Regions from separate parts of the Homo sapiens genome. Here region 1 is linked to region 2. Evidence: fine-mapped expression QTL. A gene starts in region 2. The other region holds a variant in brackets. All regions are shown on one strand. Distances are from middle to middle.

What was found.
Region 1: its variant is fine-mapped to the expression of PML in whole blood (TOPMed, PIP 0.92).

Annotation. Positions count from the first base shown.
Region 1 is chr15:73,961,235-73,976,740 of GRCh38, reverse strand. No RefSeq gene overlaps it. Among named protein-coding and RNA genes, the nearest start is that of STOML1, 23 kb to the left of the region's middle. RefSeq lists an enhancer at 3,328-3,537 and a silencer at 10,666-10,815. The variant C/T (reference allele first, on the strand shown) is at 7,524.
Region 2 is chr15:73,990,191-74,005,335 of GRCh38, reverse strand. It overlaps PML (PML nuclear body scaffold), which reads right to left and starts at 10,620. Exons shown (of 9, transcript NM_033238.3): 1 at 10,395-10,620; 2 at 6,860-7,332. The coding sequence starts at 10,523. STOML1 (stomatin like 1) reads left to right here and starts at 13,041. Exons shown (of 7, transcript NM_004809.5): 1 at 13,041-13,245; 2 at 14,879-14,985. The coding sequence starts at 13,113. RefSeq lists enhancers at 7,246-7,748, 10,038-10,207, 13,505-13,574, 13,635-13,764 and a silencer at 12,815-13,374.

The DNA.
Region 1 (15,506 bases), 29 kb after region 2:
GTCTTTTGTGTCCTTTAGAAGTTTTGAAATGTCCTTTATATCGTCTGAACATTTATTCTTAAGTACTTTATCCTTTTTGGTACTACTATAAGTGGAATATTTCTTCCACTATATTATCTGAACAGAATACAATTTGTTGCTCTTTAGTGATTTTGTTTCTCTGTGTATGAGCAGAAAACAAACTCAATTTCTCCTACTATACTCCAGAAACACACTTCTGATACCACATGTGTGGGGTTCCCCCACCCCCCCATATCAAGCAAGGAGCCAGTTCTGCAGTGGCCACCAGCTGGGTGTTCTTAATTCAATTCCAACACTATCTACCTGGAGATAGCGTCAGATCCCAGTCCCACAAGACCGTCCCCCACTTCCAGTGCCAATTACAAGCCCCAGGTTGTATTACCTGTACTTCTGGCCAACTGGCTATAAATCAGGATTCTCATGACCCTCTTCTTGGGTTTGATTAATTTGCTAGAGCACCTCACAGAATGCAGGGAAGCATTTGCTTACGTTTAGCAGTTTATCATAAAGCATATTTTAAAGGATACAAATGAAAAGCCAGATGAAGACATAAACGGGGCACACTCTGGAAGGGCCTCAAATACAAAAGCTTCCATCCCCGAATACAAAATCTTCCATACAAGACCACCTTCCTGGGAAACCCCTGAACTCAGTCGTTACGGGTTTTTATGGCGATTTCATTATGTAGGCATGATCAATTACATCACTGGCCATTGGTGATCAACCTTCGGTTCCTCTCTCCTCCCCGAATGTGGAGGGTGGGGCTCTGAGCAGACGGTTGGATCCCCTGGCAAGCAGCCATCCATCCTGTGGTTATAAACGTTAAGCTCAGTTGTGGCTCCAAACAACAAGCCCGACTTTCACTTTTTTTTTTTTTTTTTTGAGATGGAGTTTCGCTCTGTTGCCCAGGCTGGAGTGCAGTGGCGATCTCAGCTCACTGCAACCTCTGCCTCCCGAGTTCATGCAATTCTCCTCCTCAGCCTCCTGAGCAGCTGGGATTACAGGTATGCACCACCATGCCCACCTAATTTTTGTATTTTTAGTAGAGACAGGGTTTCACCATGTTGGTCAGGCTGGTCTCGAACTCCTGACCTCGTTATCTGCCACCTTGGCCTCCCAAAGTGCCGGGATTACAAACGTGAGCCACTCCGCCCGGCCCATCTTTCACCTTTATGCTTACTCTGGAGCTGCTCCAGAGCTGTTTCAAGAACAAAGGATGAAAGGCCAAATATTTTAAGGAAAGATACTCTTATCACACTCTAGTCTCCTAGGAAATTACAATGATTATATGGGCTGTCAGCCAGGAACTATAGACAAAAACAAAGAATAGATATATCACACTTACTAACTTCTATAAAACAGAATGAGCGTCTTCATGGAGCGGAGCAGAGGACGCAGGTTTTACAGACAGAATAAGCTGAAGAAACCAGAAACAAAAAACAAAGAACGGATCGGTCATTTCAAAATTACTTTCTTAGTAAGGCAAGAACAGGGAAACAGAACAATTGAAAAATAACTGGTGGCCAGGTGTGCGGGCTCACACCTGTAAGCCCAGCACTTTGGGAATCCGAGGCGGGTGAATCACGAGGTCAGATTGAGACCATCTTGGTTAACACAGTGAAACCCCATCTCTACTAAAAATACAAAAAAAATTAGCCAGGCATGGTGGTTGGCGCCTGTAGTCCCAGCTACTTGGAAAACTGAGAAGGGAAGATTTGCGCCCAGTGTGTTTCGGGAATTAATGGGTTCTCGGTCTCACTAACTTCAAGAATGAAGCCACGGATGCTCGTGGTAAGTGTTATAGTTTTTAAACGCGGCCTATCCAGAGTCTGTTACTTTTGATGTTCAGATGTGTGCGGAATTTCTTCCCACTGGTCGGTCTGTGGTCTCACGGGCTCAGGACTGAAACCACAGACCTTCCCAGTGAGTGTTACAGCTCTGAAGGCGGTGCGTCTGGAGTTTTTTCTTCTTCCCGGTGGGTTCGTGGTCTCGCTAGCTTCAGGAGTGAAGCTACAGACTTTCGCGGTTGAGTGTTACGGCTCATAAAGGCAGCGCGGACCCAAACGGTGAACAACAACAAGATTTATCGCAAAGAGTGAAAGAACAAAGCTTCGCCAACGTAAACTGGGCCTCAGCGAGTTGTCACTGCCAGCTTGGGCAAGCCTGCTTTTATTCTCTTATCTGGCCCCACCCACATCCTGCTGATTGGTCCATTTTACAGAGAGCCGATTGGCCCATTTTACAGAGAGCTGATTGGTCCATTTTGACAGGGTGCTGATTGGTGCGTTTACAATCCCTGAGCTAGGCACGAAAGTTCTCCATGTCCCCACTAGATTAGTTAGATACAGAGTGTAGACACAAAAGTTCTCCAAGTCCCCAGCAGAGTAGGTAGATACAGAGTGTCAATTGGTGCATTCACAAACCCTGAGCTAGACACAGGGTGCTGATTGGTGTGTTTACAAACCTTGAGCTAGATACAGACTGCCGATTGGTGTATTTACAATCCCTTAGCTAGACATAAAGGTTCTCCAAGTCCCCAACAGACTCAGGAGCCCAGCTGGCTTCACCCAGTGGATCCCACACGGGGGCTGCAGGTGGAACTGCCTGCCAGTCCCGCGCCGTGTGCCTGCACTCCTCAGTTCTTGGGTGGTCGATGGGATTGGGCTCCATGGAGCAGGGGGCGGCGCTCATCGCGGAGGCTTGGGCCGCACAGGAGCCCACGGAGCTGGGGGGAGGCTCAGGCATGGCGGGCTGCAGGTCTTGAGCCCTGCCCCGCGGGAAGGCAGCTAAGGCCTGGCGAGAAATCGAGCACAGCAGCTGCTGGCCCAGGTGCTAAGACCCTCACTGCCCGGGGCTTGCGGGCCGGCCGGCCGGCCGCACCGAGTGCGGGGCCCGCGGAGCCCACGCCCACCCGGAACTCGCGCTGGCCAGCAAGTGCCGCGCGCAGCCCCGGTTCCCGCCCGCGGCTCTCCCTCCACACCTCCCCGCAAGCTAAGGGAGCCGGCTCCAGCCTTGGCCAGCCCAGAAAGGGGCTCCCACAGTGCAGCAGTGGGCTGAAGGGCTCCTCAAGCGCGGCCAGAGTGGGCACCAAGGCCGAGGAGGCGCCGAGAGCGAGGGCTGCAGGCGCGCTGTCACCTCTCACCAGGAGGAGGTCGAGGCTGCAGTGAGCCATAATTGCACCACTGCACTCCAGCCTGGGCGACAGAGCAAGAACCTGTCTTAGAAAGAAGCAGGGACTGAGCTGGGGAGGAAGGCTGGTGCCTGTGCCCTGGGAAGAAGGGCAAGGTGCTCTCAGAGTTGCTCTGGGGACAGGGACTCTGCCCCACGTTCAGAATTCATCCCCAACCTTGGTCTGCATGCTGGGTATGAGGAGAAAAGTGGCCCAAGAGAAGCCCTAAGTCTCCATGCTGGCTTCTGGGCCCCATGGGAGCCCGAACCACAAAGCTATGCAGGTCACTCCAGAGGGCCCGAGTCACCCCGAGGAGGAGAAGCAGCCCGGGGAGTGGCGTCCAGAGGTCTCCCTGGGAGCCTCGGCTCCTAGGTCAGAGCTCTCGTTTTTTTCTGACGGGAACGCAAAGAAAGCCAGTCCCGAGCTTGTGGTGCCATCTTGTGGCAACACGGGAGATAGCTGGTTTCCTCTTTCCAGAGGCTGCTTTCCAGGGCCGGGGAGGGGCGGGGCAGGGCAGTGAGCTGCTGTAGTAGAGTGACGGTGAAGAGCGGGGTCTAGGGAATATTCACCCTGCCTAGCCTTTCCCAAATGCATTCACACACACACTCACACTCACACACACACCCCTGTTGTACCTGGTCCAGGTGCGCTTGACAGGGTTGTGGGGGTAGAGAGGAAGGTGGGAGGCTTTGGCCAGGAGAAACTGGGGGAGACGGACTACTGCGTCGCCAGAAACTGCAGATTCTGGATTAAATCTACAAAATGAGGCATTCTGAAATCAAACGGCGTTTTAAGACCTTGCTAGGACCAGATGCTATTACCTTTGGAAGTTCCTTCCCACACCTTATTAAATATTAAAATACACAGATTTCTTACGTTAAATATAACATAGCACTGTCAGGTAACACGAGGTGATTTTTGTATGTTTGCCTTGGAAATTACTTGGCTAAGAGTAATTCATTTATGGTGTAATTACCTACGCGTTCTCAGCCCTCCCTGGGTATTCATTTGCATTCTTAAAGTACAGTCACACCCTAAATAACGACGTCTCAGGTCAGTGATGGGCTGCGTATCCGATGGCGGTCCCATAGGATTATAATGGAGCTGACAAATTCCTATCACCTAGTGACGTCATAGCCGATGTAACATTTTAGCTGACACAAAGCATTACTCATGCAAATCTATGACGGAAGAAAGAAACAAACTTGGCAAACCACCATGGACATACTTCTGAAAAGACGGACACTTCTTCAAGAAGTGCCTCAGGCAGGTCCTTTAGGAGAGATTGCAGAAGAAAGCATTGTCCGCTGGGCGTGGTGGCTCACGCCTGTAATCCCAGCACTTTGGGAGGCCGAGGCAGGTGGATCACCTGAGGTCAGGAGTTCGAGACCAGCTTGGCCAATACGGCGAAACCCCGTCGCTGGGCATGGTAGCGCGTGCCTGTACTCCCGGCTACTTGGGAGGCTGAGGCTTGAGGATCCCTTGAACCTTGGAGGTGGAGGCTGCAGTGAGCTGAGATCGTGCCACTGCACTCCAGCCTGGGCGACAGAGTAAGACTCTGTCTCAAAAAAAAAAAAAGAAAAAAAGCATTGTTGCAATAGCAGGTGACAGCTCCATGCGTGTTGTTGCCTATGAAGAACTTCCAGTGGGACAAGGTGTAGAGGTGCAAGACAGTGATATTGATGGTCCTGACCCTATGTAGGTTTAGGCTAATGTGTGTATTTGTGTCTTAGTTTTTAACAAAAAGGTTTTAAAAGTAAAAATAAAATAATTGAAAAATAAAAAGTTTATAGAATAAGGATACAAAAAAAGAAAATATTTTTGTATAGCTGCATAATGTGTTTGTGTTTTAAGCTAAGTGTTATTATAAAAAGTCAAAAAGTTTAAAAAAAATTTTAAAGTTCATAAAGTTGTAGAAAGCTAAGGCTAATTTATTACTGAAGAAAAACTTTTTTTTTGAGACAGAGTTTTGCTCTTGTTGCCTAGACTGGAGTGCAATGGCACAATCTCGGCTCACTACAACCTCCGCCTCTCAGGTTCAAGTGATTCTCTTGCCTCAGTCTCCCTGGTAGCTGGGATTACAGGTGCCCACCACCATGCCTGGCTAATTTTTTGTATTTTTAGTAGAGATGGGGTTTCACCATGTTGACCAGGCAGGTCTCGAGCCCCTGACCTCAGGTGATTCACCCACCTCGGCCTCCCAAAGTGCAGGGATTACAGGCGTGAGCCACCGCGCCCTGCCAAAGAATAATATTTTTAATAAACTTAGTGTAGTAGCCTAGGTGACAGTGTCTTTAAAGTCTACAGTAGTGTACAGTATTGTCCTAGGCCTCCACATTCATTCACCACTCACTCACGGACTCACCCAGAGCAACTTCCAGTCCTGCAAGCTCCATTCATGGTAAGTACCCTAAACAGGTGTACATTTTAAATATTTTATATGATATTTTTACTGTGCCTTTTCTATGTTTAGCTATGTTTAGATACACAAATACTTATTATTGTATTATAATTGCCTACAGTATTCGGTACAGTCACGTGCTGTACAGGTTTGTAGCCTAGGAGCAATAGTCTATCTCTTATAGCCTAAGTGTGTAGCAGGCTACACATCACAGAGTGTGTAAGGACACTCTCTGATGTTTGTACAACATTGAAATCACCTAATGACACATTTTTCTGATGGTATTCCTGTGGTTAACAGATACATGACTGTGCTCCAAGAGTTAACATCTAGTCTACAAATTCTTTTCAAAAGTAATGAAATTCTTATGAACACTGCATTTAATAATTAAAGAGGCCAATAGAGAATTAATGACATAAATTAACAATCGATGACACTTTGTAGACATTTGATTAAACATTTATTAATTTGGATGATTCTGTAGTTTTTACATTTTGGAGCCAAGACTTTTCTCAGGTTTTAAACATTTATTTAGGTCCCTGAGAAGCTCATGGGCTTTCAGCATGTCCTCTGAGACCACTTTACCTGAAAGATAAGTGGCCTGATGTCACCTACCCATAGGAAAGCTATGAAGAATAAAAATTAGATACTAGATGAAAGCACTTAGCATAGTGTCTAGTAAACACTGAGCACCTAATTAGAAGTAGTAGATGTTAGTAAATGTATCTGCACACATGTACGCACAAACTCATTGATTCACTCAAACATTTTTTATTGGGCACTCACTATGTGCTGGGCAAGGCAATGTTCTAGGTGCCAAGGATATAGTAGGGAACAAACCCACCAAGAACCCTGTCCTTGTGGAATTTACATTCTAGTTGTGAGAGCTAGACATAAGCAATAAGCATTAAAAATCAGAAAGGAGGCCGGGTGCATTGACTCCTGCTTGTAATCCCAGCTCTTTGGGAGGCTGAGGTGGGAGGATAGCTTGAGCCCGGGAGTTTGAGGCTGCAGTGAGCTAGGACCACACCACTGCACTCCAAGCCTGGGCAACAGAGTGAGTCTCTGTCTCACACACATATATATATGTGTGTGTGTGTGTGTGTGTATATGTATATACATATAGGTATATACGTACGTATATACATATATATATATAGAGAGAGAGAGAGTGAGAAACAGAGAGAGAGAGAAAAATAAGAAAGGCATACAGTATGTTAGAAGGCCATGAATGCCTTGGGAGAGGGCCTGGCATGTTCTAGAACAGCAAGGAGGCCATTGTGGCTGGGATGGAGAGAGGGAGGAGAGTGGCAGAAGACCAGGCCAGAGGGGAAATGGGGCCAGCTCATGTAGGGCCTGGTAGGCCACAGGAAGGGCTGTGTTCAGTGGGAGCCCCTGCAGGGTTCTAAGCAGAGGAACATGAGGGACTGAACATACACGTGCACCATGGCCAGACCCTGTGGAAACTAGAACTCTGAGCCTAACCTGCAGCAAGCTGCCCAGGAAACCAACCCCCTCATCTGGAATCCACAGCCCAGGATGCCAGTCTGCTATAAGTCAGACATGAAGGAAGCCAGATCACTATCTCCAGTAGCCATCCAGGAAGCAAAACAATAACTTCTCTAACAATCAGCCCCGAAAGGCCAGGACTTGATTAAAAACTGGCAGCTTCCCTAATTTTTGTCCCAGCTTCCAACTTAGGGCCAGCAAGAGAAAGCCAAATATGCACCCACCCCTCCCCAGCCAATCTCAGAATCCCCTCCAAATTATCCCACCCAGCTTCTCCAGGCCAATAGCCTCCAATCAGGGCACACCCCAAGCCTTCCCCCACCTCCTTTCCCGCACCCCTACCCCCGGCCCACCGACAATAAGGCTCAGCCTGATTTTGAGTCCCTACAAAAATGCAAGTGATGCTGGCTGACAACCTTGCTA[C/T]AGCAAGCTCTGAATGGTTTTTGTTTATTTCTACAAATGGTAGGATCTGTCTTACGAAGCTGCTTTATTGAGAATAGATTGTATGTAAAAGCAGACCCATTAAGAAACTGTTCCAAGACTCCATCTCAAAAAAAAAAAAAAAAAAAAAAAAAAAAAAAAAAAAAAAGCGGCTGTTGCAATAATCCAGGCAAGAAAAGAGAGTGGTGTGGACCAGGCTGGTAGCAGGGCGGGAGGTGGACTCTGGTTATTTGTATTCTAAGTTGTTAATTTTGAAATAATTGTAGGGTCACAGAAGGTCACAAAGGAATGTAGAGAGAAGTCCCATGTTCCCTACCTCTCATGCGAACAACTCACATAACCAGAGTACAGTATCAAAACGAAGAAATGGAACATCGGCACAATCCATTGAGTTTATTCAGATCTAACCAGTTATGCACGCACCCATTTGTGTGTGTGTTTGTGTGTGCCTGTAGGAAATGGGAAATCATGTATATAGTGAGAAAAATAGAGTTGGCCTTTGTCCCTGGTTCTTGGCACAGATCTTTTAAAACCCTCCTAAAATTTCCTGAGTTACAGTGATGTTTTGTTATTCATAACAAACCCCTTTCAACCATACCTGAGCTTATGTTAATGAGGACCCTAAATAGTTTCTGGATACAGGCTGCTGATCAGAAAGACTAAGCCATGATTGATGATGAGAGAGTTGGAACTTTCAGCCTCACTCTCTGACCTCCAGGGAGTGGACAGTGGCTAGGGATGGAGTTCAGTCACCAATGACCAATGATTTCATCAATCATGCCTCTGTAATGGAACCTTCATAAAGTTCCAAAACAATGGAGTTTGGAGAGCTTCTGGGTTGGAACACATGGAGATGCTGGAGGGGTGACGCCCAGAGCAGGCAGGGAGGCTCTGCACACCCACCCTACAATACCCAGTCCTATGCATCTCTTCACTTGGCTGTTCCTGAGTTGTATCTTTTACAATAGACCAGTAATGGTGAAGTAATGTGTTTTTTTGAGTTCTGTGAGCCATTCTAGCAAATTATCAAACCTGAGGAATGGAGGTCACGGGAACCTCCAAATTTGTAGTTGGCTGGACAGAAGTGTGGGTAACCTGGGGACCCAGTACTTGTGACTGGCATGTGAAATGGGGGTAGTTTTGTTTTGTTTTGTTTTGTTTTTTTGGAGACATCGAGTCTCACTCTGTCACCCAGGCTGGAGTGCAGTGGCACGATCTCGGCTCACACAACCTCCGCCTCTGGGTTCAAGCAATTATCCTGTCTCAGCCCCCCAAGTAGCTGGGATTACAGGCACTCGCCACCACTCCTGGCTAATTTTTGTACTTTTAGTAGAGATGAGGTTTCACCATGTTGGCCAGGCTGGACTCGAACTCCTGACCTCAGGTGATCCGCCTGCCTCGGCTTCCCAAAGTTCTGGGATTACAGGCATGAGCCACCACACCCAGCCATTTTTTTTTTTTTTGAGATGGAGTTTCACTCTTGTTGCCCAGGCTGGAGTGCAATGGCGTGACCTCAGCTCACTGCAACCTCCACCTCCTGGGTTCAAGCAATTCTTCTGCCTCAGCCTCCCGAGTAGCTGGGATTACAGGTGCCCGCCACCAGGCCTGGCTAATTTTTGTATTTTTAGTAGAGACAGGGTTTCACCATGTTGGCCAGGCTGGTCTCGAACTCCTGACCTCAGGTGATCCGCCCGCCTCAGCCTCCCAAAGTGCTGGGATTACAGGTGTGAGCCACTGCGCCTGGGAGAAATGGGGGTAGTCTTATGGGACTGAGCCCTTCAGCCTGTGGAGTCTGACACTAACTCCAGGTTAGTATCAGAATAGAATTGAATTATTGAACACCCAATTGGTATCACAGAAGCAGAAAATCGATTGGTGTTGGAAATGATACCACTTATTTGGTATCAGCACAAAGACCACAAAAAAGCTTTTTTTTTTTTTTTTTTTTGAGACAGAGTCTCACTCTGTTTTCAGGCTGAAGTGCAGTGGCACAATCTTGGCTCACTGCAACCTCCTCCTCCCGGGTTAAAGCAATTCTTCTGCCTCAGCCTCCTGAGTAGCTGGGATTACAGGCACACACTGCCACACCCGGCTAATTTTTGTATTTTTAGTAGAGACGGGGTTTCACCGTGTTGGCCAGGTTGGTCTCGACCTCCTGACCTCGTCATCCCCCCACCTCAGCCTCCCAAAGTGCTGGAATTACAGATGTGAGCCGTCGCACCCAGCCAACCACAAAGTAGCTCTATGTAAATTTGCCCTATGTGTAGCCTGGAGTAGCCACCAGAATGACCGAGGTGCTCAACTGTACCATCACCACAAAGCCTCTCGTGTAACCCCTTTACAGCCACACCCTCCCCTCCCTTCTGATATGGTACTGATCTGGGTCCCCACCAAACCGGGTGGAGTTCTCATGAATGGATTAGCACCATGAGATCTAGTTGTTCAAAAGTGTGTAGCACCTCCCATCTCTTTTCCTCCTGCTCTGGCCATGTAAGTGGTGCCTGCCTCCTCCTTTGCCCTCCCCATGGTTGTAAGTTCCCTGAGGCCTCCCCAGAAGCTGAAGCCACCACGCTTCCTGTACAGACTGCAGAACCATGAGCCAATTAAACCTTTTGTCTTTATAAATTACCCAGTCTCAGGTATTTCTTTATAGAAAGAGGAGAACGGACTAATACACATTCCTAACTCCTGACAACCACTAGTCTATTCCCTCTCTAATTATATTATTTGCCGTGTAAATAGAATCATGCAGTGATGTATCCTTTTGAGGCTGGCTTTTTCACTCAGCAAAAGTTCATCCAAGTTGTTGCTTGTACCAATAGTTCATTCCTTCTACAGCAGAATAGTATCCTGTGGTATGAATATACCATAGTTTGTGAGTATTTTCTGGTTTAGGGCTATTATAAATAAAGCTTCTATGAACATTTGTGTACAAGTTCCACCATGAAAATAAGTTTTCATTTCTCTGGGAAAAATGCATGACAGTGCAATTGCCGGGTTTTATGATAAGTCCATTTTTATTTTTGAAAGGAACTGGTTATATTTTGAACATGGGGCCAACAGGATTATCTGACAAATTGAACGTGGGTTTGAGAGAAAAGAGGAGTCAGGGATGGTTCTAAATGAAAGCATGCTGGAACACAGTAAGGGCTTGGTAAATGTCAGCTGCACAAGTGGTAGCAAATACAGCTGCAATCATGAAAGAAATGAGAAAAACCACGAGGCACTGTAAGCCATGAGACATTGCCCTAGAAGGCATTTAGAGTCACTCATTTGCATATGTTAAAAGTGAAAGAGAAGAGTGTTTTATTTCCTCTTAGGATATAGAAAAACCACAAGGGAACATCATTCCCATTCTTTTCTGGGGGGGCTCCAGTGATCATCCCACCTCAGCCTCCTGAGTAGCTGGGACTACAGGCTCCTGTCGCCATGTCTGGCTAATTTTTTTTTTTTTTTTTTTTTTTTTTTTGTAGAGACAGGGTTTCCCCATGTTGCTCAGGCTGGCTGGTCTTGAACTCCAGGGCTCAAAGGGTCCACCCACCTCACCCCCGAAAGTGCTGGGAGTACAGGAATGAACCACCCCGCCCCCCGACTCTAACAATAACAAAACACCAGATAATTTGCAAAACCATAATTTCTTAAACCAGTCAGATAGCTGAGGTGGCAGGCAACCAAGAGAACTGAATTCCAAAGAGTGACAAGCCCCTCCAAGGAAAGGCAAGACCAACTGTCTTGGGCAGAGCATGTGGTGGGCAGGAGGGAGTCTGCCCTGCCTTCTGAGCTTTTTGCACAGGCCTTCACTGCAGGAAAAAGACTGGAGGCAGAGGGGGAGCCGGGAGAGACCCCTCCCCCTTGCTGGTGGCACAAGCACTCAAGCGGTGATTGACTGCTGTGCAGCGACCCCCACCTGCTTCCCCAGGACGATTCTCTCTGGGCAAAACCACGTGGGAGGCTGCACTCTCTGGCCCCAGGGCTGCTGCGGGAGAGGCAGAAACGAAGATCCACTGCTTCTGGGGCAGGATCAAAGTAAACACCACTTGCCCCTGTGGGAGGCGCAGGACGCACTCTCCTGTGTTAAACCCACAGGAGATAGAAGGCACGACAGGAGGGACAGGAGCACTTCGAAGACTCCACCTTCTGAGACCCTAGTACACAGGCTCTGCGGAGGCTGGGCCAGGAGAATGGAGCAACATCCCACCGTCCGGAAACCCTTTAACACACGTCCACAAACTGCCTCCACTACTAGCCCAACCAAGAGTAGCAGCAACGGCATTTACCACCAGGGGGCGGGCAAGAGCACACAGAGACATTTACCACCAGGAGGAGGGCAAGACCACGCATCCCCTAGGTAGTGCAGGCGAGCAGGGGTTGCTGAGAGCTGAGGGTGGAGCCGCAACTTCCAGAAAATTTCCGGGACCCTCAGGCTGTCTGTGAGAAACACACTTTAAATATAAAAACCTAGGGCTGGGGCGGTGGCTCACACCTGTAATCCCAGCACTTTGGGAGGCCTAGGCGGGCTGATCTCCTGAGGTCAGGAGTTCGAGACCAGCCTGGCCAACATGGTGAAACCCCATCTCTACTAAAAATACAAAAATTAGTCGGATGTGGTGGCACATGCCTGTAATCCCAACCACTTGGGAGGCCGAGGCACGAGAATCGCTTGAACTCGGGAGGTGGAGGTTGCAGTGAGCTGAGATCACGCCATTGCACTTCAGCCTGGGCAACAGAGCGAGACTCTGTCTCAAAAGAAATAAAAAATAATAATAAAGACCTAGATAGCCTAAAACCAAAGGAATGGAAAAAAGGCATGCCATGCAAACACTAATCCAAAGAAAGCTCAAGTGTCTATATTAATGTCAGATGAAGCAGAAACAGAGAATATTTCCAGGAATAAAGAAGGACTGTATATAAAGGGGTTGATTCATCAAGAGGACATCATAACTGTCCATGCATGTGCACTGGAGAACACAGTCAGGGTACATGCAATCGAGACCGTTAGAGCTGAAAGGAGAAATAGACACATCCACTCTTCTCTCAATATTTGGTAGAGCGAGTACACAGAAAATCAGGCTGGGTATGGGTAACTTGAATAACACTAATAACCAACAATCTGATTGACATTTATAGGACATTTCGCACAACAACAGCAGAATACACATTCTTTTTGAGTGCCCATGGAACTTTAGCAAGATAGACCATATTCTGGGCCATAAAGCAAATCTTAACAAATTAAAAATAATTGAAATCATACAAAGTATGTTTTCTCACCATAATGAAATTAAACTATAAATCAGTAACAGAAAGATATCTGGAAAGTCCCCAAATGTTTGGAAATCAAACAACACACTTTTAGATAACTTATGGTTCAAAGAAGAAACCATGAGGATAATTAGAAATATTCTAATGGAAATAAAAATACAACATATCAACACTGTCGATGAAAAGAGTCGAACTCTGTAAAATATTTTAGGAGATTTATTCTAAGCCAAATATGAGTGACCATGGCCCGTGACACAGCCCTCCGAAGCTCCTGAGAACATGTGAACATGTGCCCAAGATGGTCGGGGTGCAGCTTAGTTTTATATATTTTAGGAAGCATGAGACATCAGTCAAATACATTTAAGAAATACATTGGTTTGGTTCAGAAAGGAGGGACAACTCAAAGTGGGGACTTCCAGGCTATAGGTAAATTTAAACATTTTCTGGTTGACAATTGGTTGAGTTTGTCTGAAGATCTGGGATCAATAGAAAGGAAATGTTCAGGTTAAAATAAAGGATTGTGGAAACCAAGTTTTATTGTGCAGAGGAATCTCTCAGATAGCAGACTTCAGACAGAGAGGAGAGAGAGAGCAGGTTGTAAAATGTTTCTTATTAGACCTAAAAGAGTGCCTGGCTCTTAGTTGATTATCTCCTGGATCTGGAAAGGAAGGAAGGAAAACAAAGGGGCAAGGGGATTCTCTATAGAATGTGGATTTTTCCCACAAGAGACTTGCAGGGCAATTTCAAGCTATGGCAGGGAAATATATTTTGGGGTTAAATATTTTTTCCTTGTCTCGTAATGTTATACCAGAGTCAGATTGAAAAGTAAGTCACAATATATAAATAAAACCCATCTGATGAGAATTTAGGATTTGTAGGGCATGACTCCCTAGATCCCTTAGATAGAAATTTGGGCAAAATCAAAAATTAGAACTTAGTCCTAAAAACTCATGGGATACCATTTATTGCAGTGCTTACAGAAAATCTTTGTGACATTGTTTAAGTTAAGATTTAGATAGGACAAAAAACACAGCCCATAAAAGGAAAAAAAACCGATAAATTGGCTCTTATCAAAATTAAAAACTTCCGCTCTTTAGAAGGTACTAGTAAAAAATGAGAAGACAAACGACAGATTGGGAAAAAATATTTGCAAAACATATCACTGATGAATAACTTGTATCCAGAATAGATAAAGAATTCTTCCAACTCAATAATGAGACAAACAAGCCAATTAAAAATGGGCAAAGGATCTGAACAGAAATTTCATCAAAGAAGAGATATCCTGGCAAACAACCACATGAACACATGCTCAACATTGTTAGTCACTAGGGAAATGAAAATTTAAACCAGAATGAAATACAGTCAGCCCTCGGTATCTACGGGTTCCACATCCACGGATTCAACCAACTGCACAGTGAACACACAGATAAAAAATATTGAAAAAAATAACAATACAACAATAAAAACAATACAAATAAAAACAATACAGCATAACAACGATTTACATAGCATTTAAATTATATTAGGGATCATAAGTAATCTAGAGATAAATTAAAGTAGAGCGGGTTATGTGCCTGGGTTATATGCAAACGCTGCACTATTTTATATCAGGGACTTGAGCATGCCCGGGGTTTCCTATTTTCAGGAGTCCTGGAATCAGTCCCCAGGAATATGGAAAGATGACTGCCACAGGATACCTACTAGAATGGCTTTTAAAAAGAGGATACAGGCCAGGCACAGTGGCTCATGCCTGTAATCCCAGCATTTTGGGAGATTGAGGCAGGCGGATCACGAGGTCAAGAGATTGAGACCATCCTGGCCAACATGGTGAAACCCTGTCTCTACTAAAAATACAAAAACTAGCCAGGTGTGGTGGCACGTGTCTGTAGTCCTAGCTACTTGGGAAGCTGAGGCAGGAGAATCGCTTGAACCCAGGGGGCAGAAGTTGCACTGAGCCGAGATTGCACCACTGTACTCAAGCCTGGCAACAGAGTGAGACTCCGTCTCAAAAAAAAAAAAAAAAAAAAAAAAAAAAAAAAAAAAAAAAAAAGAGGATATAATGTGTCTGGTGAGCATGTAGCCACTTTGTTTTTGTTTTTTGTTTTCAGACAAGATCTCCCTCTGTCACCCAAGTTGGAGTGCAGTGGCTAGACCATAATTCACTACAGCCTCAAACTCCTGGGCTCAGGTGATCCTCCCATCCCTGCCTTCTGAGCAGCTGGGACTACAAGTGCCCACCACCATCCCTAGCTAATTGTTGTGTTTTTTGTAGAGACAGTGTTTCACCATGTTGCCCAGGCTGGTCTTGAACTCCTGAGCTCAAGTGATCCGCCTGCCTTGGCCTCCCAAAGTGTTTGGATTACAGGCATGTGCCACCACCCCTGGTCAAATATCTTAAATAATGTACATTTCAAAATTATCAACAGAATAAATTCCAAATGTTCTTACTACAAAAAATAAGAACAGTATTTGAGGTGATGGATATGTTAATTAGCTCAGTTTGATTATTCAACATCATATTAATACATCATAACATCACTTCATACTCCATAGATACAACTGTTATTTGTCAGTTTACAATTAAAAATAAGATTAGGCCGGGTGCAGAGGCCCATGCCTCTAATCCCAGTACTTTGGAGGCCGAGGTGGGCGGATCACTTGAGAGACCAGCCTGGCAAACGTGGAGAAAACCTGTCTCTGCTAAAA
Region 2 (15,145 bases):
CTCACACCTGTAATCCCAGCACTTTGGGAGGCTGAGGCGGGTGGATCACGAGGTCAGGAGTTCGAGACCAGCCTGGCCAATATGGTGAAACGCCGTCTCTACTAATAATACAAAAATTAGCTGGGCATGGTGGTGCGCACCTGTAGTCCCAGCTACTCGGGAGGCTGAGGCAGGAAAATCACTTGAACCCAGGAGGTGGAGGTTGCAGTGAGCCGAGATCGTGCCATTGCACTCCAGCCTGGGTGAGAGTGAGACCCTGTCTCAAAAAATAAAAATAAAAAATAAAATAAACAAATGAAGGGCTATCAGTATATTAAAAAGTATGGCCAGGCACAGTGGCTCACGCCTATAATCCCAGCACTTTGGGAGGCCAAGGCGGGCAGATCACTTGAGGCCAGGAATTCAAGACCAGCCTGGCCAATATGGCAAAACCTTGTGTCTACTAAAAAGAAAATGCAAAAATTAGCCAGGTGTAGTGGCGCATTCCTGTAGTTCCAGCTACTTGGGAGGCTGAGGCATGAGAACTGCTTGAGCCTGGGAGGCAAAGGTTGCAATGAGCCAAGATCATGCCACTATATTCCAAGAGCAATACTCTATCTCAAAAAAAAAAAAAAAATTAAAAAGCAGAATACAATTTCCCTGAGATGAAGAGCTGAAGAAAGACTTGAGTTTTTCAGATCAACAATGGCGATAGAAGATTATTGAAAAAAGAAAAAATTATATAAAGATCTTTAGCAGGCTGGGCATGGGCTCAAGCCTGTAATCCCAGTGCTTTGGGCGGCTAAGGCAGGAGGATCACTTGAAGCCAGGAGTTTAGACCAGCCTGGGCAATATAGTGAGACCCTATCTCTACATAAAATTTTAAAAATTAGCCAGGCATGGTGGCAGGCACCTATAGTCCTAGCTACTCAGAGACTAAGGCTAGCAGACCTCTTGAGTCTAGGAGTTCGAGGTTACAGTGAGCTATGATCACACCACTGCACACCAGCCTGGGCAACAGAGCAAGAACTTATCTCTAAACAAACAAATAAACAAATGAAAACCATCCAACTATATTTATTAGCCAGGCACGGTGGCAGGTGCCTGTAGTCCTGGCTACTTGGGAGGTCAAGGTGGGAGGATTGCTTGAGCCCAGGAGTTTGAGGCTGCAGTGAACTCTGATTGCACCACTGCATTCCAACCTGGGTGACAGAGTGAGACCCCATCTCTAAAAAGTAAAATAAATAAAAATAAATAAAGATCCTTAACAAACAAAAACAGATTACTCACAGAGAAAAAATAGACCATTAGTGGACTTCTCATCTACAACACCAGAGACTAGAAATTTATGAAGCAAGGTTTATATATTCTGAGGTGAAAGCACTGTGATTATGACCTCAGAATTTTACACCTAGCTCAACTTTCCCTCACATGTGACAGCAAAAGAAGGACATACAAGTAAAGACACTTAAGGTCTCAGAAAGTAAACTCTGGAATAATTTTTTTAATTACTTGATGGAGTATTCCTGCCAAATGGAAAATTAATCACCTTAAATAATTCAAGAAAGGAGAAGAAAAGCTATAGGAAAACTTATCATGAGCAATGAAACCAATTAAAGTATAAGGTATGGCTAACAAGTGCGTTGTAATATGACCATGAAGCTTAATACCTGTTCAGAAAGGATGTTTACAAAAGAAAAAAAAATTAACAATTTGGTAGTAATCTGGAACTAAAAGTTCACATTATTTCAACTAAATCTGAAAGTGAGAAGGAAGAGGGAAGAAGAAAAACTATAAAAGTGTGCTAAATGTTTTATTTTCTCTGGAAGAATAGTTATATTCTACTCTTTGTGGTGATAGATGAGATAGGTTCTAGAGTGTGCATGTATGTGTGTGTTGGTGTGTGTATACACTTTTTTTTTCTGAGATGGAGTTTCACTCTTGTTGCCCAGGCTGGAGTGCAGTGGCACAATCTCAGCTCACTGCAACCTCCGCCTTCCAGTTTCAAGCAATTCTCCTACCTCAGCCTCCCGAGTAGCTGGGATTACAGGCGCCCGCCACCACGCCCGGCTAATTTTTGTATTTTTAATAGAGACGAGGTTTCACCATGTTGGTGAGGCTGGTATTGAACTCCTGACCTCATGATCCGCCTGCCTCAGCCTCCCAAAGTGCTGGGATTACAAGCGTGAGCCACTGCGCCTGGCCCACTTTTTTTCTTTTTTTAAGACAGAGTCTCATTGTGTCACCCAGGCTGGAGTGCAGTGGCGTGATCATGGCTCACTGCATCCTTGAACGGACAGGCTCAGGTGATCCTCTCTGAGGAATACCTCCACCTCCCGAATAGCTGGGACGAGAGGCATGTGCCACCATGTCCAGCTAATTTTGTATTTTTTTGTAGAGACGGGGTTTCACCATATTGCCCAGGCTGGCCTCAAACTCCTGGGCTCAAAATATCCACCGGCCTTGGCCTCCCAAAGTGTTGGGATTACAGGTGGAAGCCACCACATCTGGCCTATATATATGTTTTGATGGGGAAGTTACCACTCTGTAATTATCATTTAGAGAACTGGTGAAACAGAATGGAAGGAAAGGTAGAAAGTTTCGGCCAGACATGTTGGCTCACGCCTGTAATCCCAGCACTTTGGGAGGCTGAGGCGGGTGGATCACAAGGTCAGGAGATCAAGACCATCCTGGCCAACATAATGAAACCCCTTCTCTACTAAAAATACAAAAAAAAAAAAAAAACTTAGCCGGGCATGGTGGCACACGCCTGTAATCCCAGCTACTCAGGAGGCTGAGGCAGGAGAAACACTTGAACCCGGGAGGAGGAGGTTGCAGTGAGCCGAGATCATGCCACTGCACTCCAACCTGGATGACAGAGCAAGACTCCATCAAAAAAAAAAAAAAAAAAAGAAAAGAAAGAAAGGTAGAAAGTTTCAATAGCGTGGAGATACACACACACACACAAGCACTAGAACTTACATATATATGGATATATACATATAGATATATGCATATATACACATATATATTATATACATATATTTGTGTATGTATATATATGTGTGTACAACAAATACAACTTTTCAACTCTAAGGATTATTGCTAGGAATATGTGAGTCCAAGGAATATCCTAGGCCGCTAAGAAAATCTCAATATAGTCTTAGATGTAGAACTCATACAAACTGTATAAACTGGCCATAGTGCAGAAATTAACAAGTATGAAATCGCACCATCACATTCCAGCCTGGGTGACAGAACAAGAAACCAAACATCAAAACCACTTGAAAATTTTAGAAAACACTATTCTCTAAAACTTTTCAAGAGAAAAAAATTTCTTTTTTTTTTTTTTCGAGTCAGGGTCCGGTTCTGATGCTCTGGTTGGAGTGAAGTGGCACCATCACAGCTCACTGCAGGCTCAAATTCTTAGGTTCAAGCAACCCTCCTGCCTCAACCTCCCAAATAACTGGGACTACAAGCATGTACCACCGACCATGCCTGGCTAATTTTTTTTATTTTTTGTAAAGATGAGGTCTTGCTATGTTGCCCAGGCTGATCTCGAACTCTTGACCTTAAGCAAGAGAACCTTTTTAAGAAAAGACTGAAATGAAATTTGAGAAATGATTGACTATGAGAACACTAATGAAGTTATCAAAGTTATGGCATACAGCCAAAACCATATACAGAGAACTTATGCCTTAAAAGAGTTATTATTAGGCAGGGCATTGTAGCTCACGCCTGTAATCCCAGAACTTTGGGAGACTGAGGCGGGTGGATCACTTGAGGCCAGGAGTTCGAGACCAGCCTGGTCAACATGGGGAAACCCCGTCTCTACTAAAAATAAAAAAAATTAGCCAGGCATGGTGGTGGGCACCTGTAGTCTCAGCTACTGGGGAGGCTGAGGCAGGAGAATCACTTGAACCCAGGAGGCACAGGTTGCAGTGAGCCAAGATCTACCACTGCACTCCAGCCTGGGTGACAGAGGGAGATTCTCAAAAAAAAAAAAGTTATTATTATTAAACAATAAAGATTGCAAATAAATGAATTATAAGTTCAAGAAGCTAGAAAATGAATAATGACAAAAGTTAGAAGGAAGAAAATGACAAAAATAAAATGATCAAACAGAAAGAAGGAAAACATTAAAATCAGTAAGCAATCTAAGGAAAGACTAAAAGTACAGTACTTTGAAAAGACTGCTAAACCACAAATATACAACATCAGAAATAAAAAAAGGGGGTATAGTTACAGGCATATAGGAGATTTTTAAATAATGAAAGATAACTCAGGATGAACTGGAAAATCTTCCAAAAATCTGACACAAGAGCCAAAACAGATTAATGCCATGGCAAAAATGGGAAAAGTTCCCAAAAATCTACTATAAAAAAGGCACCAGTTCCAAGATGGTTTTTCAAAAAACTTTTATAAGCCTAAATTTCTTATATTCTTCAAATTGTTCTAGAGCAGAGAAATTATAATAGAATTTTAACATTCACTGAGTATTTAATATGTGCCAGGCACTACGCTAAACAATTTATATGTACAGTTGGCCCTCAGTATCTGCAGGTTACGCACCCGTGGATTCAACAAATCTTGGATCAAAAATATTCAGGCGAAAAAAAATCAATTAAAAAAGTACCACAATAAAAAAATATACAAATTCAAAAATATAGTAAAACAACTCTTTACATAGCATTTACATTGTATTAGGCATTATAAGTAATCTAGAGATGACTTAAAGTATACAGGAGGGGATGGGTACAGTGGCTCACACCTGTAATCCCAGCACTTTGAGAGGCCTAGGGAGGGTTGCTGCCTGAGCCCAAGAGTTCTCAAGACCAGTCTGGGCAATGTCGTGAAACCCTGTCTCTACAAAAAATTTAAAAATTAGCTGAGTGTGGTGGTGCACACCTGCAGTCCTGTATAATCTGGTGGCTGAGGTGGGAGGATTGTTTGAACCCAAGAGATTGAGGCTGCAGTGAGCCACGAGTGCAGCACTGCACTCCAGCCTGGGCGACAGAGCAAGACCCCGTCTCAAAAAATAAAAATAAAATAAAAAATAAAGTATACAGGAGGATGTGTAGAGGTTATATACAAATACTATGCCATTTTATATCAGAGACTTGAGCATCTATGAATTTGAAACAGACTCCCATGGATCCCGTGGGATGGCTGCATTATCACGTTCAAAACATGAAAGCTTACAAATTCATTAAGAAATTAGTATAAGGCTGGGCATGGTGGCTCATGCCTGTAATCCCAGAACTTTGGGAGGCCGAGGCAGGTGGATCACCTGAGGTCAGGAGACCAGCCTGACCATTATAGTGAAACCCTGTCTCTACTAAAAATGCCAAAAAATTAGCCAGGCATGATGATGTGCACCTGTAATCGCAGCTACTTGGGAGGCTGAGGCAGGAAAATGGCGTGAACCCGGGAGGTGGAGGTTGCAGTGAGCCGAGATCGCGCCACTGCACTCCAGCCTGGGTGACACAGCGAGACTCCATCTCAAAAAAAAAAAAAAAAAATTAAAAAAAATTTTTTAAATCCAAAAGATAGAACCAGAGATAAAGCCAATTTCTCCTAATTTATTGCAATTTCAATCAAAATCCAATAAATATGTAAGTTTTAAAACTGCATAAATTGTAAGAGCAAAAGAAATGCATACATTTTTTTCTTTCGAGGAATTTGTTCCTGAATTCTTTAATTAGTCCCTTAATTCCTCAACGGAAACAACAACAACAACAGGCAAAGGACCTAAACAGGCCACTCGCAAATGCAGAAACACAATGGCCAATAAACAAGTGGAAAGCCACTCAACCTTTACAATAAGCTAAGAAACGTGGTGATACCAGCTGTTGAGGAGTCGGAGGGGAAAGCTTATTCTGATAGTGTGGGAAGTTTATCCTAAAGCAGGAAACAAATCACAGTCAGTTTAGCAGATATGTAGTTCAGCAAATATGTGGTTTAGCCATATATAGTTCTGAGTTGTCAAAAACCAGCGAAAAATGCTTTCATTTTGCAAGTGGATCTCTAAGAACCAAGAAGCGCCTTCTATGAACAATCTATTGCTAATGGTGAAAAGTTCACATAGTTATGCTACCTTTTTGGCTAAAAGAGGGAAAATAGGACCTGATAAGATTGCTCCTACCTGCATATATATTCGTAAAGAAACTCTCAGAAGAAACATTCAAAACTAGTAACAATGGCTACCTGTGGATGGGAAGAGGGAGAAGTGGTGGGAATTAGGCAGTTGGGCATGGACAGAAGATTGCACTCTCTCTCTCCTCTTTACAAATTTTGTTCGTGAACTGTACGAATGTATTACCTATTAAAAAACTGAGTTAAAATCTGTTTAATAAAAATAATTACAACTGGATGTGATTTTTTTTCCCCATACAGACATTCTCAGATAGCGCTGCCTGGTGTTAATGGTTTCAACTTTTCAGACAGAAACTAACTACTTGTCTCTGATCCTAGAATCCAGCCTTACTGAGATTCCGTGTCAGTGCTCTCGGAAAATTCCACTAAATTCTAAAGGGCAGTTTGGTAACATGTATCAAATGTAGAATTCCCGTCCCCCTACACCCAGCAGTGGCACTTCTAAAAATTTATCCTAAAGAAGTTACTGGATAAAGATGCAAAGATGATTCTGCAGCATTATTTATTACAGGAGGAAACTGGAAACTTACTATCCACCTGCGTGGGGACTGGCAGCATAAATTGTGGTCATCAACACGGACACTGCATATCTGCAGACCACATTTAGAGTTGCAAGGCCCCAGAAGCTCCTTGTCCTCAGCTGTGTGACTCTTTGGATCTTTGCTCCTCTCGCCCTCTACCTGGTACTTGGATGCACCACCCCACCCTGTGCCGGCCTACTCACCTGGTCAGCGTAGGGGTGCGGTGGTTGGGGTTGGAGCAGAAGATGTTGTTGGTCTTGCGGGTGCCGTCCAGGAACTCACGCACCGACTGGTTGCGCAGCTCTGCTAGGGGCCGGGCCTCGTGCTTGAGGAACCACTGGTGTGCCTCGAAGCACTTGGCGCAGAGGAGCTGCTCGCACTCAAAGCACCAGAAGTCGGCCGACTCTTTGCAGCGGGTGCACACAGCCTGCGCATCCACAATCTGCCGGTACACCGACAGGCGCCGCTGCAGACTCTCGAAAAAGACGTTATCCAGGGCGGGTGTGTCTGCACCTAGGGGCCAGGGCGCCTGGCAGATGGGGCACTGCATGCCCGACGCCTCCAGGCATCCTGAGCACAGCGTGTGCAGACAAGGCAGCAGCTTCGGGCACTTGGCTTCCGCCTGGCATTGCTGGCAGCGCAGAAACTGGAACTCCTCCTCCGAAGCGGGGGCTCGCTGGGGGACCAGAGAGGCAGGTGAGGCCTGGAGAAGTCCCAAAAGCCCCCACCTACCGGCCAACCACCCTTACAGCTGGACCCTGGAGTAGGACCTCATATTCCATTCCAGCCAGTCATTGGATGATGCAAAACCCTGGCTTATCAGCACCCCAATACCCCCATTTATTCAGGCCCTCCAGCTCTCACTGCACCATTTATTGAGCATCTACTTCTCATCACCCACAGTAATAGGCTCTGAGATATAAGAGGTGTAGGATACATTCTGCCTTCAAGGAACTCAGTTTGGAAGGTAGATACACTAAGTACCAACCTCATATAAAGTGCTTAATGCACAGTTTGGGGGTTCATTAAAGAGGTAAGCATGGAACAACAATATGACCCAGAAATTCCACTCTTAGATATATAACCAAAAGATGTAAAAACAAGGCCCAAACAGATACTTGTACAACAATGTCCACAGCAACACTATTCACAATAGACAAAATGTAGAAACAATCCAAGTATCCATCAACAGATGAATAGATAAACAAAATGTGGTCTACACATATAATGGAATATTACTCAGCGTTAGAAAGAAATGAAATTCTGATACATGCTACAACATAGATAGACCTCAATGACATTATGCTAAGTGAAATAAGCCAGTCACAAAAGGTCAAACACTGTATGATTCTGAGGCAGGAGAATAGGGTCTGGAGGCAGGGAACCTAAGGCCGATTCCCTCTGACTTCCTAGAACTAAATCGAAAGGAAAACCGCAACTCTCCATGCCTCAGTAACAAAAGGAAGAGAGGCTACTCTCTTTGCAAATCACCCCATTTCCTGCAGGGCAGATGGAAAATTGAAAGTACGTCTGGTTGGTTGCTTTCTGCAACCAATGGGGTGAACACCAAGTGGCCAATGGGAAACCTCTAGGGGGTATTTGGAACCCAGAAGATTCTGTAACTGGGGTCCTTGAGCCCTGCTCTAGCCGCTCCCACCCTGTGGGGTGTACTTTCATTTTCAATAAATCTCTGCTTTCATTGCTTCACTCTTTCCTTGCTTTGCTGTACATTTTGTCCAATTCTTTGTTCAAAATGCCAAGAACCTGAACAATTTGCAGTCAAGATCCTCTACTGGTAACAATTCCACTTACATGAAATATCTAGAATAAGTAAGTTCATAGGGACAGAAGGTAGATTAGAAGTTACCAAGGGCTAGGGGAAGGAGAAAATGAGGAGCTATTGCATTACTGGGGCTCAGGACACACCACTTCAAAGTATGACTGCAGGAGGCTCTTGAAATATACTTCTTTGGCATATTTTAAGCTGGTTATTCTGAGAAACTGCTGATACAGGAATAGCTCTGAAAAGCTCTCCTTTTGTAAAAAAGAAAGGCATTTATATCTTAAAAGAAAATCTACATTAGTAAAATGATCTATATTAAAAGAGGGCTGCTCCAGACAACTTTTATTATCTAAGAACTTTTAATCTACATAGCAAGACAACCTCTATTCACCAAACAGCTCCTCTCCTCACCCTCCCATAACTTGTGTTATCACCATCACCCAGAAGCTCCAAGCTCTTTTCCGTAGCTCAGGATGTTATACAGGCTTCAATCATCTGACCTTTCTTTGAGTCTCATATATTGTGGGACTCCTGAGTATACATATGTAATTAAATATGGGTTTTCCGCTGGTAATCTATTTTATGACTATTTAATTCATAGGCTATTTAATTCATAGCCCAGCCAAGGAAACTAGAAGGGTGGAGGCAAGCCATCTTTCCCTCCCCTATGGTTTAAAGAGTACAGAGTTTCTGGAGTAATGAAAAAGTTCTGGAAATAGATGGTGGTGATGGTTACACAATATTGTGAATCTACTTAATGCCACTGAATGGTACACTTATAAATGGTTAACATAGGAACTTATCCATTAGGTATATTTTACCACATTTTGTAAAATACAAAAACAGGCCGGGCATGGTGGCTCATGCCTGTAATCCCAGCACTTTGGGAGGCCGAGGTGGGTGGATCACGAGGTCAGGAGTTAGAGACCAATCTGGCCAACATAGTGAAACCCCATCTCTACTAAAAATATAAAAAATAGCCAGGTATGGTGGCGTGGCCTGTAATCCCAGCTACTCGGGAGGCTGAGGCAGGAGAATGGCGTGAACCCGGAAGGAGGAGGTTGCAGTGAGCCGAGATCGCACCATTGCACTCCAGCCTGGGCGACAGTGTGAGACTCCGTCTCAAAAACAAACAGATAAACAAACAAACAAAAAACAAAGCAAAACAAACAAACAACAACAAAAAAAAACCAAAGTGCTTAATACAGTACCTGGCACATTTGAAGTGCTCATAAATGTTACCTAGTATTGTTAAGTAATGTTATTCTTAGTTGTAATAATGTTTATAAAAGTTACTGTAATACGGTGTCCTCTGTACTTTCATGAAGGGGAGTAAAAGGGCCTGAAAGGCAGCAGAGCAAGAAACCCAAGTAGTTCCTTTGTCGGGGGAGGTGGGAGGTGGGCAGGAAAGGTGTGGCAAGAGAAGGGTTCGTTGGGGAGGCTTCCTTAAGCAGAAACCACATGAGCTGGGAGGCCTTGGCAAAGATACCTCTTCAGTCTGAGCCAGTTTCTCACCTCGGATCTGGGAAGTTGGTTTTAGTTTTGCCGTGCCTGGGACATGCCCCTGGCTCCAGGCCAGCGCAACAGGGGTACTACCTCCATCCTCCCTAATCTGAAGTCCTGCATCTGAGGCAAAGTTGAGGCAGGGCTCGAGGGTGGGCGGAAGGGCCCAGGCCCGGAGGCCACTGACCCTTCTCACCTTGCCCAACTGCTCAGTGGAGAAACCGCAGCCCAGCGAGGCCGCCCCAACTCCTCCGTGTCCTCTTTTCTACTCTATCCTACCCTCCCTTCCCTGCCCCACCCGAGACGGTCAGGACCCTGGTGTCTGGACTTCCCGCTTTGTGTCACTCTCTAGGGTACTTGACCAAATCCTCCGTTAGACCCTCTCTTCCCGCCTCTCCCCACCACAGCAAACCAACAAAGCTTAACCCCATCATCCCCTAACCCAATAGTACCTCTGTAGGGCTGGGGCTGGGGCTGGGCTGGCGGCCTTCAGAGGGGGTCTCGGGGGGAGGCATGGTGGGCTCCTGGGGCCGGGCGGGGTCCTGCTGGGGCCTCGGAGATCGGGCGGGTGCAGGCTCCATGGACCCCAGCTTAGTTTCGATTCTCGGTTTAGATCTTGGAGTGCGTGAAGAGAAGCTGAAGGGGAGGCGTGAGCCAGTTGGCTGAGTCCCTTGAGCTGTCCGAAAGGGGAGGTGCCGGCTCAGGGCCCGCCTCTGGAGAGGAAGTGAGACAGAAGCTGGGGGCGGTTCTAGGGGGCAGAGAGGCCGACTGTGGGTTTTAAAGACACGCCCAGAGCGGGGAGGAGGTAGAGGCGGAGAGCTGCAGACCTACCGCTGACTTACGGTAAAGCGGGAGAGGTAGGGCAGAGCTGCAGGGGGGCAGCCCTGCTCCCGGCTTTGATCCATTCATCCGTTCACACTGGCACTGCTTCGTGCCACGTCCTGCCGGGAGCTGGGCGTACAAAGATGAGCCACACGCAGCCCCTGCTTTCTAAGAGCCGTAGATGTAATGGAAGAGCAAGCCTGCAAACGGAGACATTCTGGAAAGGAGAGCCCACAGCTGGGACCTGCAAAAGCAGTGGAAATTCACCAGGGATTTAGGGTTGTAGGTGGTGGGGTACGGGGGACACTTGAAACAGAAAAGATAGCTCTTGCAAAAGCCTGTTTGGGAACTAATTTTGGCCATTTTCAGATTTAAGAGGGAATTCATGAGAAATGATACCCAAGGAGTGTGCTAGGACAAGATCCTAGCTGAGGAGATTGAACCAGTTCTGTGAGTGATGGGAAGTTGCTGAAGGATTTGGAACCAGGGAACAACACGATCAGCTGTGCATGATGGGACAGTCACTCTGACAACCTAGGAGCAGGTGCCCTGGTCTAGGACAGTGGCTGTGGGATGCAGAGGAGGGACTTGATTCAGAGATCCTGGGAAGCCAGTGACTGGAGGTGAGGGAGCAGGATGATGCCTTGAGTGACAGCTGGAAAGGCTGGTGGATCTGAGGTGGTGGGGGCAGGAGGGAGGGGGAGAGCTGGAGAGCGGGTATGAAGAGGGTGAGGGGAGAGCCAGCTAGGTCTTCGCCAATGGAAAAGCATGTCAGACTCCCAGCTGGTAAGGGGAAAGGGGCACAGTTCCAGGTGACCTCACTGGGTCAGCGCCCCGGCTTCAAACTTAAACCATCGCAACCACTGTGCTGGCTCCTGTGTACCCATTCCGTACTCTGTTCCAACTTAGAAACAGACTAGAAAGGATGATGATAGGGCCTGGCTCTTGTAAACCTTACAGTCTGCAGGGTGGAGAGCAGGGGTTGGGCAGATACGCAACTTCCTAGGGACTGTAAGGCCTCAGGAGCCTGCCCTTCCCTCCAGCCTGGTCAGTACTCCCAGGCCTTTAGAGAATCAGTCCATGAAAGCCAAATATGGTGGGCAGCCATCTGCACAAGGGACCTGGAAGTGGGCTATGGCAGGATGGGGCTTCGGAGGCCAGAGGCGATTGGCTGAGGAGGCAGAGCTGGGGAAGCTTTATTCATTTCTTTGCTTGCTTTGGAAGATAGCCTGCTCCCAGACTACCCCAAAGTCCTGTTGGAAGTTAACACTTCTCAAAGGAAATTCACGAGTTGCATTCAGGTTTTCTCAAGCCCTGGAGAGGCAAGTTAATTCCAGGTACCTGGATCAAGGGGCATGCTCTTTCTGGACCTGCAGGACTGAGGGCCTCACCTCTGTGGTGCTCTGGGGCCCCTGCCCTCATGTAGCTCTGTGCTATCCCCTTCTTCCTTACACTCCCATGCTCCCCGAAGTCTGCATGTGAAACTTCTTTCTTTTTGTGCCAAAGTTCAGGCCTTCCTACTCCACCTTGATCACGGTGACCTGGCCAGGCCATTACTTAACAAATAAGTATTGAGACCTGCCCTATGCCAGTCCCTGCTTGCTGGGCTGTGGGTTCACAAAGAGGAATAATTTGCAGACTATGTCCCAGAGAAACCCAAAGTCCAGATATGGCATGTCCTGCCTCCAGTGTGAGAGAAGGAGTGCTGAGAAGGCTGATATAGCATGTCCTTGATCCTGGAGAAGATTGGCTTCCTGTAAACCCTGATGAGATCTTGCTCTCTCGCTCCGACTGCAGTGCAGTGGCACGATCATAGCTCACTGCAGCCTCAAACTCCTGGACTCAAGAGATCCTCCCGCCTCAGCCTCCCAAGTGGCTGGGACCACAGGCAGGCATCCCACGCCAGGCTAATTTTTAAAAATTTTTTGTAGAGATGGGCTCTCACTATGTTGCTCAGGATGGTCCTGAATTCCTGGCCTCAAGCGATCCTCCTGCCTGAGTCTCCCAAATTGATGGATTATAGGAGTGAGCCACCGTGCCCAGCTTCCCCTCCAGCTTTTCTAGGGCTGAGTAGGAGAAGAGGGGAGGAGGCGATGACCCCAGCGGGGTCCGAGGAACGCCGATCACACCCAGTAGCCCTGGGCTGCAGTTCGGTCCTCCCAGCGCAGGGGGAGCCATGCGACGGCGGAAGCGGGCCCCGGCCGGCCTCCTCTTCCTGCGCCCGCGCCGCCGCGGGTGGCCGCGCGGGTGAAGCCGGAAGCAGCAGCCAGGAGGGCGGGGCCGCGTAGGGCCCACTGGCCAGGGAGGGCGCCGCGCGGAGGCGCGGGGCGTGTCTCCTGTCAAAAGCCATGCTCGGCAGGTCTGGGTACCGGGCGCTGCCCCTGGGTGATTTTGACCGCTTCCAGCAGTCGAGCTTCGGCTTTCTGGGCTCGCAGAAGGGCTGCTTGTCCCCGGAGCGGGGCGGCGTGGGGACAGGGGCCGGTGAGTGGCCGCCTGGCACGGCGGAGCCGGGGGGGACCGGCCGGCAACCCCCAGGCCCGAATCTCTGCCTCCGAGGAGTCGGCCGGCCCGGTGCCGTCGCACCCTACGAGGGGGGACTGAGAAAGGGATACGATGTGGAGAGGGGGCTGGACCCGGCGCCTGGTGCTAGCGCCGATCCGCCCTCCCTAGGGTCATGGGGCTTTGGCCCCAGAGCCAGCCAGCGTTGCTCCTATCTTCCAAAACCTCACCTCACCACATTTGTCCTCGGCTCTTATCAGCCCTTTAGGCCTGGGAAGACGTTTCAGGTTTCTATTTCGCATAGAAGAAACCGAGGTCTAGGCAGAGGAGGCCACCAGCACCCTAAAGGCACCTGCTGCAGGGAAATGGAAGAATTTTCGCCCTAGGGGGCACCTCTAGAAGCCCGGGAACTAGGCATCTCCTGGATGTGCAGGCCAAAATGACAGGTCCTCAGCTGCCTGTTGGATCTGCCCTGCTTCTGTCTTGCCCTCAAAGTCTTCTGTGGCTCCTTTGGCCTACAGGCCAGATCCCACGCTGTTCAGCCTAACCGCCTAACCTTGGATTTGATCCCTCCCTGGCCTTCCTGTCCTGAAAGCTCTCCCTATCCAGAAGTCTCTTGAGAGGCCTGGTGGATCAGAGCCAGGCACAAAGTGGAGCCTCAGTGCTCTGGGGCTTAGCCCAGAGGGCAGGGCTTCCTGGAAGAATGGAGCAGGGCTCCCGACTGCTTCCTGTCCAGGGTTGGGAGGAAAGCGGCAAATAACCTCATCCCAGATTCTGGAGCTGTCTCGGCTTTGCTCCCAACTTGGGCTCCTGAATCTCCAGGGGCCAGGACATTTGGCTTGGATAAGCCTCATCTTTCTAGCCCTGCCCCTGACCCCGACCCCTAACAATTTTCTTGAATTGAAATAGGCAGGGTTTTTTTTTGTTTTTGTTTTTTGTTGTTTGTTGTTTTTTTGAGATGGAGTCTCGCTCTGTCCCCCAGGCTGGAGTGCAGTGGCGCCATCTCGTGAAATAGGCATTTTTTAATGGTCATTAAGGCATTAAAGTTGGGTGTGGAATAGAAAATAATAATCTAATTCCTCATCTGTGGCTCCCGTTGATAAGCTATTTATGATTTATCCCTGTAGGCTAAGGCATCATCTTCATAAGGACTCCTGGAAAGCACACTTCTGGGGCTGATGGTATAGGAGGAATGTGTTTTGCCAGCAGTATTCAGTGCATGTTTACAGATGCCCAGGTGCTCCTGGCTCCATGCCAGGTATGGGTAGGCAATATAAATTAAACGAGAGGATTGACCCCTACTCAGTCCAGTGAGGAGAGCATCATCACGCGGACTGGATTCTGAGATTGAATGGCTGTTGCCTAGCAGAGAATAAGGCCTTGTGAGGGTTGTTGGACTTGGGACAAATGAGTGTTGATGTATGGGAGGAGGGAACAGACCCTAACTTGCAGCTGCCCAAAGATACGGGAATATTAGGCAAGGAGCCAGATTGAGAGCCCTGAGAAGGAAGGAGCCTCTCGAGGGGAAGGTGGGCGTAAGGTACACTTGCCCAAGTTCACTCCGCTTGGCAGCTGTCGTGCAGGTCCAGTTGACCACCTCTGCTCTCACCTGCAGATGTACCCCAGAGCTGGCCCTCCTGCCTCTGTCATGGCCTCATCAGTTTCCTGGGGTTCTTGCTGCTGTTGGTCACCTTCCCCATTTCTGGCTGGTTTGCCCTGAAGGTAAGGCTGGCTGGGTCAGCCCCCAGGGTGGTTGGGCCACACTGAGAGCTTTGGCATTGATGAATAAATTTGCCTATCCTCTGTCCCCTTTCCCTAAATATTATTACCCCTTTGTGTAATGGGCTAGGCAAGAACCATTCATTCACATTGGTCAGGGGAG